Linked DNA regions of Homo sapiens. The protein of the gene in region 1 purifies or fractionates together with the protein of each later gene. This does not show direct contact. Each region holds a gene or a part of one and is shown on either strand. Other genes may lie near its edges.

Region 1 (3,500 bases):
TAATTTAAAACTTTTTAAAATCATGTGGTTCAATAGAATTCCTAAAGTCCACTGTGGCCCACAGACACTAGATGAAGAAAAATCCCTGCTCGAGACAGTGTTCAAGTAAAATGCAGTTAGAAATAGAAGAAAGTTGGATAGTTGATGGTTGACTTTTTTCTGAGAACAGTTTTCTTATGTTCATTTATTTGAGGCCCTGCGGTCTCTGATTTTTTTCCACATATTTTAAAAGCCACTCAGATCATGAACTGATACCTGAAAGAAAAATGAAGAAGGCAGAAGGAAATGCAACATCATTCTCTGGGTGCCTAGGTCCTACAAACTTGGCAAACTATCTCATTGAAACCTCACAATACAATACAAAAAAGAAAGAAAAGGAAACTGAAGTAAAGCTGAAGTATGTCCTCTAACTTCACTCAGTCAATTAAAGGATAAGCCAGGATGTGAAACTGAAATTATCTTTTTCTTTAAAATTTTAGATTCAAGGGGTACGTGTACAGGTTTGTGGCAAGGGTGTAGGGCATGATGCTGAGGTCTGGGCTTCTGTTGATCCCATGACCCAAACAGTGAGCACAGAACCCAACAGAAAGTTCTTCTGCCCTTGCCTCCCCTCCTCTCTCTAGCAGTCCCCAGTGTCTACTGTTTCCACGTTTATGTCCACGTGTGGCCAATGTTTAGCTCCCACTTGAAGTGAAAATGTGGTACTTGGTTTTCTGTTTCTGCATTAATTTGCTTAGGATAATGGCCTTCAGCTGCATCCATGTTGCTGCAAACAACATTATTTCATTCTTTTTAATGGCTGCATAGTATTCTGTGGTGTATACGTACAACATTTTCTTTATTCAACCCACCAATGATGGGACGCATAGGTTGATTCCATGTATTTGCTATTGTGAATGATACTGTGATAACCATATGAGTACAGGTATCTTTTTGGCAGAATAATTTATTTTCCTTTGGGTATATACCCAGTAATGGAAGTGCTGAGTCAAATGGTTGTTCTATTATTAGTTCTTTCAGAAATCGCCAAACTGCTTTCCACAGGGCCTAATTTGCATTTCCACCAACAGTCTATAAGCATTCTCTTTTCTCCACAACCTTGACAACATCTGTTAGTTTTTGACTTTTTAATAATAGACATTCTGATGTGAGATGGTATCTCATTGTGGGTTTTGATTTGCATTTCTCTGGTAAGTGATGTGAGCATTTTTTCATGTTTATTGGCTGGTTGTATGTCTTTTAAGAAGTGTCTGTTCACGACCAGGGGCGGTGGCTCACGCCTGTAATCCCAGCACTTTTGGGAGGCTGAGGCGGGCGGATCATGAGGTCAGGAGATCAAGACCATCCTGCCTAACATGGTGAAACCCCGTCTCTACTAAAAATACAAAAAATTAGCTGGGCGTGGTGGTGGACGCCTGTAGTCCCAGCTGCTCGAGAGGCTGAGGCAGGAGAATGGCGTGAACCTGGGAGGAGGAGCTTGCAGTGAGCTGAGATGGCGCCACTGCACTCTAGCCTGGGTGACAGAGCGAAACTCTTGTCTCAAAAGAAAAAAAAAAAAAGAAGTGTCTGTTCATGTCCTTTGCCCACTTTTTAATGGAGTTATCTGTTTCTTTTCCTGCTGATTGAAGTTATTTAGGAAAATTTAACAAGAAAACTATAAGCTGTAAGTAAAGAAAACTTTTTAAAAAATCGCACCTGGCTAGAGGTCATAAAACAAGAACAAAAAAAAAAAAAAAAAAAAATGGAGACTCAAACCAGGTTCCTGGAGAGAAAGACTGAATGTCCTAACATCATCTAATATGAAATTAATACAATTCTAAAATACGTATGGAAAAATATATTGTATAAGAACTGCAAAAACTTTAACATCGAATTCAGCATAAATTTATTCCACCAATTAATAAGACTATTATAACACTACTGTAATAATTAAAACACTATGTGCTAGCATAATAAATCAGTAGAACAAAGCCTTGAAACAGACCCAACTCTCTATGAGAACTTAATATAGAATACAAGTGGGATTTCAATTAAATGGAAGGATTACTCAATAAAAGGTATGACAAAATCAGCCAATCATTCTTAAGAATAAAGGTATACCTGCACCTTACATCACATAACACATAAAATAATTAAACATATACCGCCCCCACTTTTTTGTCTTCAGATGGAGTTTCGCTCTTGTTGCCCAGGCTGGAGTGCAATAGTGCGATCTCGGCTCACTGCAACCTCCGCCTCCTGGGTTCAAGTGATTCTTCTGCCTCAGCCTCCCGAGTATCTGGGATTACAGGCATGCGCCACCATGCCTGGCTAATTTGGTATTTTTAGTAGAGATTGGGTTTCTCCATGTTGGTCAGACTGGTCTCGACTCCCGACCTCATGTGATCCACCCACCTCAGCCTCCCAAAGTGCTGGGATTACAGGCGTGAGCTCAGCCAACATATACTTCTTTAAAAAAACGTAAGTATTGAAGATATATATATATAACTTTGAGTTAGGAAGGTCTGCCTAGTCAGAAAAAAAAAAAAAAGCCCTACCTAGAATTCATGAAGCAGGGGTAAAAATGACTAGTTAAGAAACACTTCTGAATGGCTAAATGCAATAAAATCAAAAGTGAGAGGCTGGGAGAAAACAGTTACACAGGATGAAATGTTAATATTGCTATCACATAAAGTACTCTTACAACTTAGGAAAAAAGACAGGCTGGATACAGTGGCTAACACCTGTAATCTCAGCACTTTGGAAGGCTAAGGCGTGACCAGCCTGGGCAACATAGCAAGGACCTAGCCTAGCCACATAGCAAGGATTCACCTCTTCCAAAAAAAAAAAAAAAAAAAAAAAAAAAGATTATCTGTGTGCAGTGGTACTCCCCTTTAGTCCCAGCTACTACTGGACTGGATGAGGTAGGAGGATTGCTTCAGCTGGAGAGGCTGAGGTTGCAGTGAGCTGTGATCACATCACTGCACTCCAGTCTGGGGGAACAGAGCAAGACCCTGTCTCCAGAAAAAGCAAACAACAACAAACAACAAGTTAGGAAAAAGACAATTCAAAAGGAAAAGATCCAAAGGATCTGAAAAGAGCTGTTAAAGATCCACACAGAAGAGGCACTGATAAGTCAAACATATGAAAAGTTGCTCAACTTCACTGATCATGAGGGAATTACAATTTACAACAAGGAAACAGCCATTTTTTACATCAAATTGCCAAAACACTAAAACAAATATAACAAGCTCAAAATATGAATTTCTTTTGGAGTTAGAAATTACAGAACCTACTGATGGAGGTGAGGTTGAGGAATTGTACACAATTATAGTGAAAAAAATTTTAAAACTAAATGTTTATCAATAAAGAAATTAGTTAAGAAAATTATAGTGCTTATTTTCATGAGAATAGATGAAGGTTGCTAAAAGAAACAAAGCAGATTACTAATTGTTATAGTCTCCCATTTTTGTGAAATATACATCTTTGGTGGGGAAGAGAATGTTCTTTCAAGGTTTCAA
Region 2 (3,500 bases), on another chromosome or scaffold:
GGATTACAGGCGTGAGCCACTAAGCCCGGCCCATTGGTAATTTCTGAATACGGTTTCAGTGAGGCAACAAGACAGAAGCAAAAATGCAATGCTTCAGGGAGGGAGACAGACAGTAAAGAAACAAAATCTGAAAAATCAACAACTAGAGGGAAGTTAGTCATTAAAAGGCAGGAAAGGAAAAAAAACATGCAGAAATGGGCTAGCAGCAAGAATGAGCATCTGGGTTACAAGAAGTTTTCCCCTAATACTTGGGGGAACTGAGATATTCAAAAACAGAAAGAAGTATTCCATAAAGAGGGAAGATGCCAGGATAGAGTTTATAATGCTGGTTTATAAAAAATCTGATTATAAATACCAATGACTTATTTCCAGGATTAAAATAAACACTATTATTTACTCATACTGCTCAAATCTGGACTATCAAAGCTGTAACTGCTGGGGGTGAGATGAAGCCCACGTCCACACCTATCTCTGCTACATGGTCAGGCCTGGTCTCAAGACCAAGGAGACAAGCACTACAGCCCAGAAGCAGCATGAGCCTGGTTGGCCATCTCCAGAACAGCTTGCCAGGAGCACAAAGGCTGTGGCTCTAGCTGTGTGATGGACCACATAATTACAGTCTTATAGACTCCTAGAGCTTTGAAGTCTCATTAGTAACTTCTAAAACATGCCCCGCAGACCACCTTTCCTGAACTGAGGTACAATGTATGTAGTAAAAGAGACTCCAGTGTATATAAACAAACTTACCACAGAAACAAGTGTAGGTATTAGGAACATGTGCAGAAACATTCTGACAGGCAGGGCACCTCCAACCACTCTGGCCATCTGTCAGGAAAAATGGGAGTAGGCCAAATAAATTTTCTTCCAAAAGCTACATGTAATTAAAAAAATTTAAATCTATAGGAAGACACAATATTGAAGTAGTGGTAATAATTTCAATGTTAAGCATATCAGACATTTAAGGAACAAATTCACAATACTGACTGCTTAGCTTGAATACAGCATTTTCCACTAAATATGGGGTTCATTAAAAAAAAAAAAAAAAAAAGGCCAGGTGTGGTGGCTCATGCCTATAATCCCAGCGCTTTGTGAAGCAGAGGTGGGTGGATCACAAGGTCAGGAGATTGAGACCACCCTGGCTAACATGATGAAACATCATCTCTACTAAAAATGCAAAAATTAGCTGGGCGTGGTGGTGCGCGCCTGTAATCCCAGCTACTCAGGAGGCTGAGGCAGAAGAATCACTTGAACCTGGGAGGTGGAGGCTGCAGTGAGCCGAGATCGTGCCACTGCACTCCAGCCTGGGCAACAGAGTGAGACTCCCTCTCAAAAAAAAAACAAAAACAAACAAAAAAAAACCACTAGCTAGGCATGGTGGCTCATGTGTCTAATCCCAGCATTTTAGGAGGCTGATGCAGAATTGCTTGAGCCTGGGAGTTCAAGACAAGACTGGGCAACACAGCAGACCGTCTCAAAAAAAAAAAAAATTAGCTGGATGTGGTGGCATGTGCCTGTAGTCTCAGCTGCTTGGGAGTCTGAGGCAGGAGGATCATTTGAGTCCAGGAATTCAAGGCTGCAGTGAGACATGATCACACCACTGGACTCCAGCCTGGGTAACAGAGTAAGACTCTGTCTCAAAAAAAAAAAAAAAAAAAAAATACAGTTAGATAGAAGGAATAAGATCTAGTGTTTAGTAGCACTATGGCTAACAACAATTTATTATATATTTCAAAATAACTAGAAGAGTAGAAATGGGATGCTCCTAACACAAAGAAATGATAAATATTTGAGGTGTTGGAATCCCCATATGCCAATTACCCTGATTTGATCATTACACATTGTACGCTTGTATCAAAATATCATGTGTACCCCATAAACATGTAAACTATTACGTATGCATAGTAAAAATTTAAAAATGAAAAAAAAATGTTTTTTTGTTTGTTTGAGACAGGGTCTTGCTCTGTCACCCAGGCTGGAGGGCAGTGGTGCAATCTCAGATCACTGCAATCTCCACCTCCTGGATTCAAGCAATTCTTGTGCCTCAGCCTCCCGAGTAGCTGGGATTACAGGTGCCCGCCACCACGCCTGGCTAATTTTTATATCTTTAGTAGAGATGGAGTTTTGCCATGTTGGCCAGGCTAATCTTGAACTTCTGACTTCAGATGATCCGCCTGCCTTGGCCTCCCAAAGCGCTGGGATTACAGGCGTGAGCCATCATGCCTGGCCAAAAATGAGAAGAAGATAAATTAAAAATAGAATTACCATATGATCCTGCAATCACACTTCTGTTTATGTATCCACAGGAAATAAAATCAGTAGGTCAAAGAAAAAATAATAAGTAAAAGCCATCATTTTCAATAAGAGTGACTGATTTTGTCGTATCTTAAAATATATTTTAATATTGTTGTTTAGCTGGTTTATTTAAGATCTATAACTTAATTCTGGTCATATGAAACACATGATCAAGGTAACATACTCTCCCTGCAGAAAAAGTAGTTAAGAGAAATTAAACTGTATTTTTAAAGCTGGGCTTAATAATACTTAAACGTATCAAATAGGGGAGAATAACTACTCAGAAGAGAGAATTAATTGACCTGCTTGAGATGCTGGAGACCTTGCCCATTTCTTTATGCAGTTCAAATGAAACACATGGTAACAGCTCTGACAACTCCACACTGGGGCCGTGACACGAACCAATTCACAGCACACCATGCACTCGTATTTTTCTGTTGTTAGTTGTTCAATTAGAGAACCTGTTTAAAAAACAAAATAACAAAAAAGATTAACTCAAACACAAAAAACCATTCCTCACTTTAATCAACCAAGGATCAGCAAGTCACTCAAGAGAAGAATCCAAACACAGAGATTTTAAGGGATATCTGATTCTGGGTAAGGCAGCTGGCTATTCAGACTGAGGCCAAAAAGGGGCAGGAATTTGCTGAGGAAGAGGATTTAGGAAGGAGACACTCAGGTGGGGATTCCCACAATTAAGGAAACATTCCCAGGAAAACAGCAGAGTAGCCAAATGCCCCTTGTAACATAGCCTGAGGATCCACTGGGCAATACAGGATCTTGCTTTGCATTTTCTATTTTCCAGGATCCTCTAAATCTATCAGATCCATGGATTTAGGTTAGAAAGAGGCTCGTGAAGCTGTAGTGTCAGCTATAAGAAGCCCAAGTCTGGGCAGGTTCCAACAACCCATGAGTGGTGAGATGGCTCTAGCCGTTGCCCTCAAAGTCTTTAGTCATTCACTTAACAAAGATATTCTTGGTGCCTACCATAAGCCCCATGGTGGTGTTACAGTCCCTGGCTCCAGGAGCTCAAAGTCCAGTGACACAGACCAGTGTGTAGTATCAGAATAATCCTCCCAGATCTATTCCTGAATACCTTCACCCACTTCCAGATTTTTTTCCTCAAACACAATTGCAGCAAAGTCTTTCTAGATTTCAATACAGCCAGATACTCTCAAAACTGAGTGTGAGTGTGTGTATATGCTTTT
Region 3 (3,500 bases), on another chromosome or scaffold:
AGTTATAAATACTGCCTTTATAATTAAATACAGTGGGATGAAACAATTGAACCACTTTTTAAGTTCTTGGTTGGGGTTGGTTCCTGTGGTGCCCAGTGTAGTGTCCTGCCTGGTTGGACAGTTCCCCTCCCACCGCTCAAGTGGAGGAATCAGTTCCTCGGGTACTAAGCCCTCTCTTCTGCATTTTTTTTTTTTTTTTTTTGAGATGGAGTCTCACTCTGTTGCCCAGGCTGGAGTTTAGTAATGCAATCTCAGCTCAGTGCAACCTTTGCTTCCTGGGTTCAAGCATTTCTCCTGCCTCAGCCTCCTCAGTAGCTCGGATTACAGGTGCGTGTAACCACGCCTGGCTAATTTTTGTATTTTTAGTAGAGACCGAGTTTCACCATGTTAGTCAGGCTGGTCTCGAAGTCCTGACCTCATGATCCGCCCACTTCAGCCTCCCAAAGTGCTGGGATTAGAGGCGTGAGTCACTGTGCCCTGCCTCTTCTGCTTTTATCTCATTACTTTTCCCAAGTAATCTTATCAGCAACTGGGGTTTCATTTAGCAAATATAAGTTGACAACTCCCAATAATAATAAGGGTTCCTGTTTATGAGGTATTTACCATGTGCTAGGCCCTGTGTTTCACAAGCATTAGCCCAGTTAGCAGTCCTAACAATCCTCCCTGCAAGGCAGAAACAGCCCATGGCTCCTCCAAACAGCCCCTTGGATGCCCATGTCATGGGCACCTTAGACTCTGCACTTTCACAACTTAACTTACCTTCCCCACAAATCTGCCTCTGCTTCTCTGTACACTTGTACAAAAAATCACCAGCCATGACCTGGACCTGGACCTGTCCCTCTTATTGACTCTCCACTTCCAGTGAAGTTCCAAGTTCTGGTCTTTGTACTTCCTAAATATCCCTCCCTCCCACCCATACTTCCACCATCCTAGACAAAGCTTCCATTACTTCTGGCCCGGAATCCTATAATAGCTGCCCAACTCATCTCCCTGCATCCAGTCTTACTTCTCTTTAATTTCATTTATTCTAAGGTCATTGCTCTCTCTTTGAGCATCTGGAAAATGGGGATAATGGGGTCTCCCTCATCCTCATAGGTCTGCTTGAGTCAAATAGAACATATGGCTTTCTAAGTGTCAGGTACTTGATAATAAACTGCACAGATGACATGTGAATTGAGAAAATTTCATGCTAGAGACTGCATGTGTAACCACCACCATAAATGCCCAGGTTAGCCCACCACTGTTACAAAAGCCATTACGAAAAAGGGATAAGAGAAAGAATATATAGGTAAAAGGTTTTTAGAATGGAAATACAAGTATACTTAAATTACTCTAAAACTTAGCAGCTTCAAAGTATATACATTTATTATCTCACAGCTTCTGTGGCACAGCTTGGCTGTGTGCCTCTGGCTTGAAGTCCTTCATGACGCTGTAATCAAACTGTCAGGCAGGGCTGCAGTCTCATCTGAAGGCTTGACTGGGGTTGAGGGGATTCGAAGCTCACTCACATAGTTCTTGGCAGGCTTTTGTCCTTGTCATGTAAGCCTCTGCACAGGGCTGCTTCATGACGTGGCAACTGGCTTCCCCTACCATCTCTCACGCGGTAACAGAGAGTTTTCACAATACGAGCCACAATCTTTTAATGACCTAGTCTCAGAGTGCTCCCATCACTGCTGTCATTCATTAGAAGTGAGTTGCTAAATGCAGCCCATATTCAAGGAGATGAATTACATATGGGCAGAGAGCACTGGGGGCCATCCCACAGGCTGCCTACCATGACCAGCCAAGCAGACATCACCCTGGGAGGGAGGTGGGAGGGGCCAAGGAAGGAATGGGCTCTGTCAGCGCCTCCCTCAGGCCTCTCCGCTCATCATAGTCGAACTGACCTTGAGTCACCCGTCCTTCTACTTGCTCACCAGTGGACACTCTAGTTACAGCCTCCTCGTCTCTGCACTCATTCCTGGGGGCTGTTGCATACCTGACTTTTTACAAAATTCTAACATAGATTAGCTTTATAGTAGCTTCTAGCTCTACTGTCAAATGCAAATCCACATCAGAAAATATAATGATAAATAAAATACAAGTACTATCACAAAGTTCTAAAAACTAAAGCAAGTCAACTTGTTTTTAAAACAACTAAATCTCTATTGGAGGATTTTAAAAAAGGGTACACAACTCTGAAAATAATTATTTTGTGATATCATGTATATATTTCCGAGAACTACTTTTATCATAATTCAATTTACTGTTATGAGAAAGTGTTATGGGTTGAATCGTGTCTCCCTCCAAAAGATATGTTGGAGTCCTAAAACCTCGGAATGTGACCTTCCTTGGAGAACGGGTCTTTACAGAGGTAATTAAGTTAAACGAGGTCATGAGGGTTAGCACTAAGCCAATATGACTAGAGACTGTTTAAAAACAAGAAGCTTGGACAAAGAAACACACGCACATAAAACTAGGCTGATGTGAATATAAACATGGAGAAGACAGCCATCTAGAAGCCAAGGAGAGAGGCCTGGAACAGATCCTTCCCTTCCCTCACAGCACTCAGAAGGAACCAGCCCTGCCGACACCTTGATCTTGGACTTCCAGCCTCCAGAATTGTGAGAAAATAAATATCTGCTGTTTAAACTAACCAGGCTGTGACTGTTTGTTACAATAGCCCTGTAAAACTAATACAGAGGGAAGAAAAAAAGAGAGAGTTTCAGACAGAGACAGAAATAAAGAGAGAAGGAAAAAGACTTATTTTAACAGGCTGTGTCTTCATCTAGATGAGTGATTCAAAGGCAAACACATAAGGGCCTACTCTTTATTTTTTTACATTGAGACAGGGTCTTGCTCTGTCACCCAGGCTGAAGTGCAGTGGTGCAATCACAGGTCACTGCAGCCTTGACCTCCCAGGTTCAAACGATACTCCCACCTCACCCTCCCAGGTAGCTGGGACTGTAGGTGCAGGCCACCATGCCTGGCTTATTTTTGTATTTTTTGTAGAGATGGGGTTTCTTCATGTTGCCCAGGCTGGTCTCGAACTCCTGGCCTCAAGTATCCTTCTGCTTCGGCCCCCCAAAGTACTGGGATTACAGGCATGAGCCACTGGCCCTGGCCCAGGCCTACTCTTAAAACCTCATTTAGCACACGTATTAGACACAATGGCTCCACTCCTAGAGGCTGACAGAAATTTCTAAGAGATGTGCAAATAAAACACAATTCCAGTTGAAAAGCAGCAGACTGCCCTCTAAAATCAGAACCTGGCCCTAGTCATGGTGGCCTAAGCCAGGGGCTAGGAGCCCAGCAATCCCTACCTTTTGGTAGTTCTCTTTGGAGCTCAGGGCTGCCTCCATTTGCTTGGCAGAGGTCGGGTAGATGGCCGAGCGGTACTGAGTGCCATGGTCGTTCCCCTGGCGCATACCTAGGAAAGCAGAAAACAGGGAGGGTTACCCGGTCACTAGGCGACAGTGCCAGTCTCAAACTGGGCACAATGCTGAGACATTTTGACACTT
Region 4 (4,120 bases), on another chromosome or scaffold:
AGAGAGGGCTCCTGCAAGATCCTCGATGATGTTCCATTCATCTTTCTCTTCTGTAAACAAAAGTAGGTGTCTTCCTAATTCCGTTTCAAAAAGACATCCTTTCAGTTCCTCACTCTGGCCATGGACATTTCCATGTGAAAATACACATAGTGCATCTTGCGGCCACTAGATACAAAGCCACGTACAGAAATGAGGCCAGGTGCAGATGGGGCGAATTGAAAAGATGAAAGAAGAAAAGAAGGACAGGGTCGAGGAGGCAACATTGATTGAGTGAAAGAATGAGAAGACGCAGTCAGTCAGGAGGTGATTCTCACTAAGGGTAAGTGGGGTGGCGATAGCACACCATTTTGATTATACTGAATGCTGCTGGGTGGTTCCCACTCCTTTGGTGAATTTTGTGTTATGTAAATTTCACATCAACAATTACTTGTTTGAAAAAGAGAAAACAAGGCTCTAAGAAACAACTGCAACACAGAACTTATTATTATCCTTGCTCTCTGATAAATATTTGTGTGTCATGAGCCTGCCATGGCAATTTCTGCCCTTCCCCTGGCCCAGCTTCGTTCTTACTTCTCCCCGCCGAGCTGCTGTACTTCAGAGATCTACACACCTACCCGCCTGCCTCCCCCTATGGGGTCCCCTCACCTGAGCTCCTCAGCTTGCTTCAGCTGCTCTGCAAGCTTCTCCTCCTTGAACTGTCGCTCATTCCTCAGCATAAATTTTATGAGGTCTTTACACTCTTCATACTCTGAAAAAAGACAGACACGCCTGCCTCAGTGGAAGGCTGGACATGCTGCTGTGGTCACTGCCTACAGGGCAGGAGCCAGGTCCATCCCAAGGACAAAACTCTCCCCAGTACCAGGGTCTAGACAGGGATTTCCACATCTTTACTCTTCAGTCTCCTGACTTTCTGGCATCTGATCCTCCAAAATTTAAAGACGAAAAAAGAGAAACTCAAGGGCACATCAAGGAAGTTGACAAGATGATTCAACCACAACGAAGTGGAGTCAGAACTCACAGCCCCTGAGGTCTGACTCTGAATGCGGGGCCACTTTCCCAAGCCTTGCAGCCTCTCCTCTAAAACACTGCACTGGGGCATGAAGTAGTGATTTCTTGTACAGTCGGGAAGGCCCCTAGGACTATGGGACTGATGGCTTCCCTTTTACTGGGTATTTCAAGGACAAATATGTCAAGGACTTTAAAAATATTTCACTTTTAAATCAATATTCAGATATGGTTTTAAGAATCATATCTGAAGCATAAAGTGTGAGACATAAGACAATAAGGCCATGAAGGAAATATGCCCAAATACTTTATTAGTATGAGAGGCAGCATTAAGATTTAGATTAGTTGTGTTAATTTAGAAACAGCATAAGATTAGTTTGTGTTAATTTAGAAACATCAGAATGAAGAACTAATAGATAGTGTTTACACTGTGCCAATTAATGTTCAAGGAGATTGACAGGAAATACCTCAGGTAATTCATTGCAGCAATTTACAGAGGTAGGTATTATTGTAGTACCCTCTGAACAGATGAGGAAACTGAGGGACAGACAAGACAAGCAACTTGGATGGAGCCCAGGAGACAGGCTGAGGGTCCCTGCTTTGCACACTGCACTGCTGCTTCCACACATTCTCCGGTGTGATCTTTCCTCTTTAGGAACAAGAGCCTGTGCACCAGGAAGCAGGACTTCACTCTCACCAAGGTACTCTCTGCTTTTTATTTTTATTTTTGATTTATTTATCGTTTTGTTTGTTTGTTTTTTGACGAGTCTTGCCCCGTCACCCATGCTGGAGTGCAATAGTGCAATCTTGGCTCACTGCAACATCTGCCTGCTGGGTTCAAAGGATTCTTCTGCCTCAGCCTCCCGATTAGTGGTGATTACAGTTGCCCGCCACGATGCCCATCTACTTTTTGTATTTTTAGTGGAGATGGGGTTTCTCCACGTTGCCCAGGCTAGTCTCAAACTGCTGACCTCGTGCTCTGCCCGCCTCAGCCTCCCAAAGTGCTGAGATTATAGGAGTGAGCCACGTTGCACGGCCCCTACTCCCTGCTCTTGATGCTGTCACTTATAGATAGCACAGGTTCTATTAGGAGCAGACTCCCCTTGAAGCCCCTCAGAGCAGGTACTGGCTACTATCACCAAGTTCCCCTCAGAGTCACTAGAACAGAGCTTTGCCTGTTGGGCCTCAACAGAAACTTGAACTGAATAAAAGTTCACTAGTCCTAGACATTTAGAACAACAGACTAGATGTTATTTGTCTGCAGGATCTTATATGGTACAGAGAGGATTCTTAAAAACATGATTGAGCCCCTTGGAGAAAACAGGTCATTCTGTGCCTGTGTTAGAAATCAATAACTGTGAGTTTAACTCTAGTTCCACCCCCATCTGATTGCAAACATGGAAAGTTGCTAAATACTTTGGCACCTCTGTCTTCCAACTTTAACAAAATGTTAAAATACCCATTTCTGTTTTCCTAGAAGTACAGGAAGGATGAAATTATTTTTGATGGAGAGAGCATTTAGTGTCTCAGAGAGAAGACAGGATATCATTCATCACTTTCATGATGGTGAGCCTATAGATCTTACTGTATTTCTTCTGTCGGTTGGCCAGGAAGCCGGCCAGTTGAGTTAGAAAACATTTCTCTTTGAGGCTTCTGAACTGCTGTTTCTTCTCTGCCAGCTGGGGGCGCAATGTCTCGTTGATTTCTAGAATGTTCATCTCTGCCTTCTCACTGGACCAAGGGCCGGCTGATACCACCATGCTGACGTTTGTGGCAGAAGAGGTGGAGTCAGGGACTGGGGAGAAGAAACCCAAACATATGATGGGTTAAAAACTGGTGAAATCAAATCGGTTTAATGAGGACTGAGGGATGTCAGTAACTGAAATTCTTAACTTACTGTTGTGAAAAATGTGATCACTCCCCACAGCACTTTAGGATCCTTCACCACAAAAACAAGGTTCGAGGTGCCTCAACTCAGAGCTGAAAGCACTGCCAGTAGCTCAGACTCTGATAAGAGTGAGGCAGAATGTGGCCAGCGTGCCAGGTAACCGTCTGCAGTTGCAATAACAGAATTAGAAGGTGGGGGTGTCATGGAATCTTAGGAGCTCTGCATTCCAATTGCCCAGGCTTTGCTGAAACACAGGCACCCTACTCTCACCTGAGGGTCACCACCAATGGGGATCATTCCTTCAGCATTCACTCTCAGTATTCGTGTACCCTTGTGACAATGCCACAGACCCGTGTCTTTCCCAATACATCTAAGCATATTCCTCACTGTTTATCTCTTGTCTGTACAACATCATCAAGGCAGAAACAGTTTCCCAACAGGTTATATTTTCTTAATGGTAGTCATGAAGTCACCCCACCTGCTCTCAGTTAAAACAGAGCTTAAGGCTTTTCCACAGGTGTAAGATATCAAACTTTTAGCCTGCCCTGATATCCTCCGGGTCTTCTGCAGTTTTTTCTGTATCCACTAGAAAGTGAATGAATAATTCATTTTTTTAAAATATTTTCTTTCCTGTCTCAGTATTCTTGCTGCTGCATCCCATTGTTAGATTGATTTCTTCTTTCTTACTGGGGCACCTTCTTGGGTTTTCATTACATTCTAGACCAGTTTGACATCCCTACGTCCAAAGCTCTTCCTCTATGTGGGTTGATTTGTTTTTTAATGTCACTGAGCACTACATTTTATACTTGTCACTTATAGATGTCATTCTAGTGCCCCAAGACCTCTTTTCAAGGTATCAAGTGATCAAAGTCATTTATATAGAGGTCTCCTGAAAACATGTGTGACCATCTATCTTGGGAAGTTTTGTAAACCTGATGCTATTTTGTTGTTTCCATTTTGTTTTCCCATATACTGAAAAGAACAGGGCCACGAGCAGTTCTTATGGAATATGGTTTGATATATATTTTGTTGAGATGACCTAACACCATTGATTTTGGGTTGCATTCCACTAACAGAACATGGCAAGATCAAGGTTATGGTCAGGGTTGGTTGGCGATCCTCAGTGTTGCTGTGCAGTAGAAGGTGAGTTTGAGGTGAGAGGAACAAGTAGGAAAGAGTGATCCCCTGAACCACCTCTTCGCTTTCTCAGCTTTCATCCCCACCTAG

What was found. Proteins that work in one complex are often made in the same cells at the same time.
Region 2: the proteins of RNF17 (region 1) and NFX1 purify together in Homo sapiens (affinity purification with mass spectrometry, with the first as the bait; one large-scale study listed by BioGRID). This does not show direct contact.
Region 3: the proteins of RNF17 (region 1) and MSRA purify together in Homo sapiens (affinity purification with mass spectrometry, with the first as the bait; one large-scale study listed by BioGRID). This does not show direct contact.
Region 4: the proteins of RNF17 (region 1) and NBPF10 purify together in Homo sapiens (affinity purification with mass spectrometry, with the first as the bait; one large-scale study listed by BioGRID). This does not show direct contact.

Annotation. Positions count from the first base shown.
Region 1 is NC_000013.11:24,770,669-24,774,168, reverse strand, and holds part of RNF17 (RING finger protein 17), read right to left. Parts: intron 1-3,500. UniProt on the Homo sapiens protein: Seems to be involved in regulation of transcriptional activity of MYC. In vitro, inhibits DNA-binding activity of Mad-MAX heterodimers. Can recruit Mad transcriptional repressors (MXD1, MXD3, MXD4 and MXI1) to the cytoplasm. May be involved in spermiogenesis.
Region 2 is NC_000009.12:33,300,516-33,304,015, reverse strand, and holds part of NFX1 (transcriptional repressor NF-X1), read right to left. Parts: intron 2,754-3,500; coding exon 2,595-2,753; intron 826-2,594; coding exon 748-825; intron 1-747. UniProt on the Homo sapiens protein: Binds to the X-box motif of MHC class II genes and represses their expression. May play an important role in regulating the duration of an inflammatory response by limiting the period in which MHC class II molecules are induced by interferon-gamma.
Region 3 is NC_000008.11:10,319,792-10,323,291, reverse strand, and holds part of MSRA (mitochondrial peptide methionine sulfoxide reductase isoform a precursor), read right to left. Parts: intron 3,410-3,500; coding exon 3,303-3,409; intron 1-3,302. UniProt on the Homo sapiens protein: Has an important function as a repair enzyme for proteins that have been inactivated by oxidation. Catalyzes the reversible oxidation-reduction of methionine sulfoxide in proteins to methionine.
Region 4 is NC_000001.11:146,142,005-146,146,124, forward strand, and holds the start of NBPF10 (NBPF family member NBPF10), read right to left. Parts: upstream 2,801-4,120; 5' UTR 2,766-2,800; coding exon 2,591-2,765; intron 749-2,590; coding exon 646-748; intron 1-645.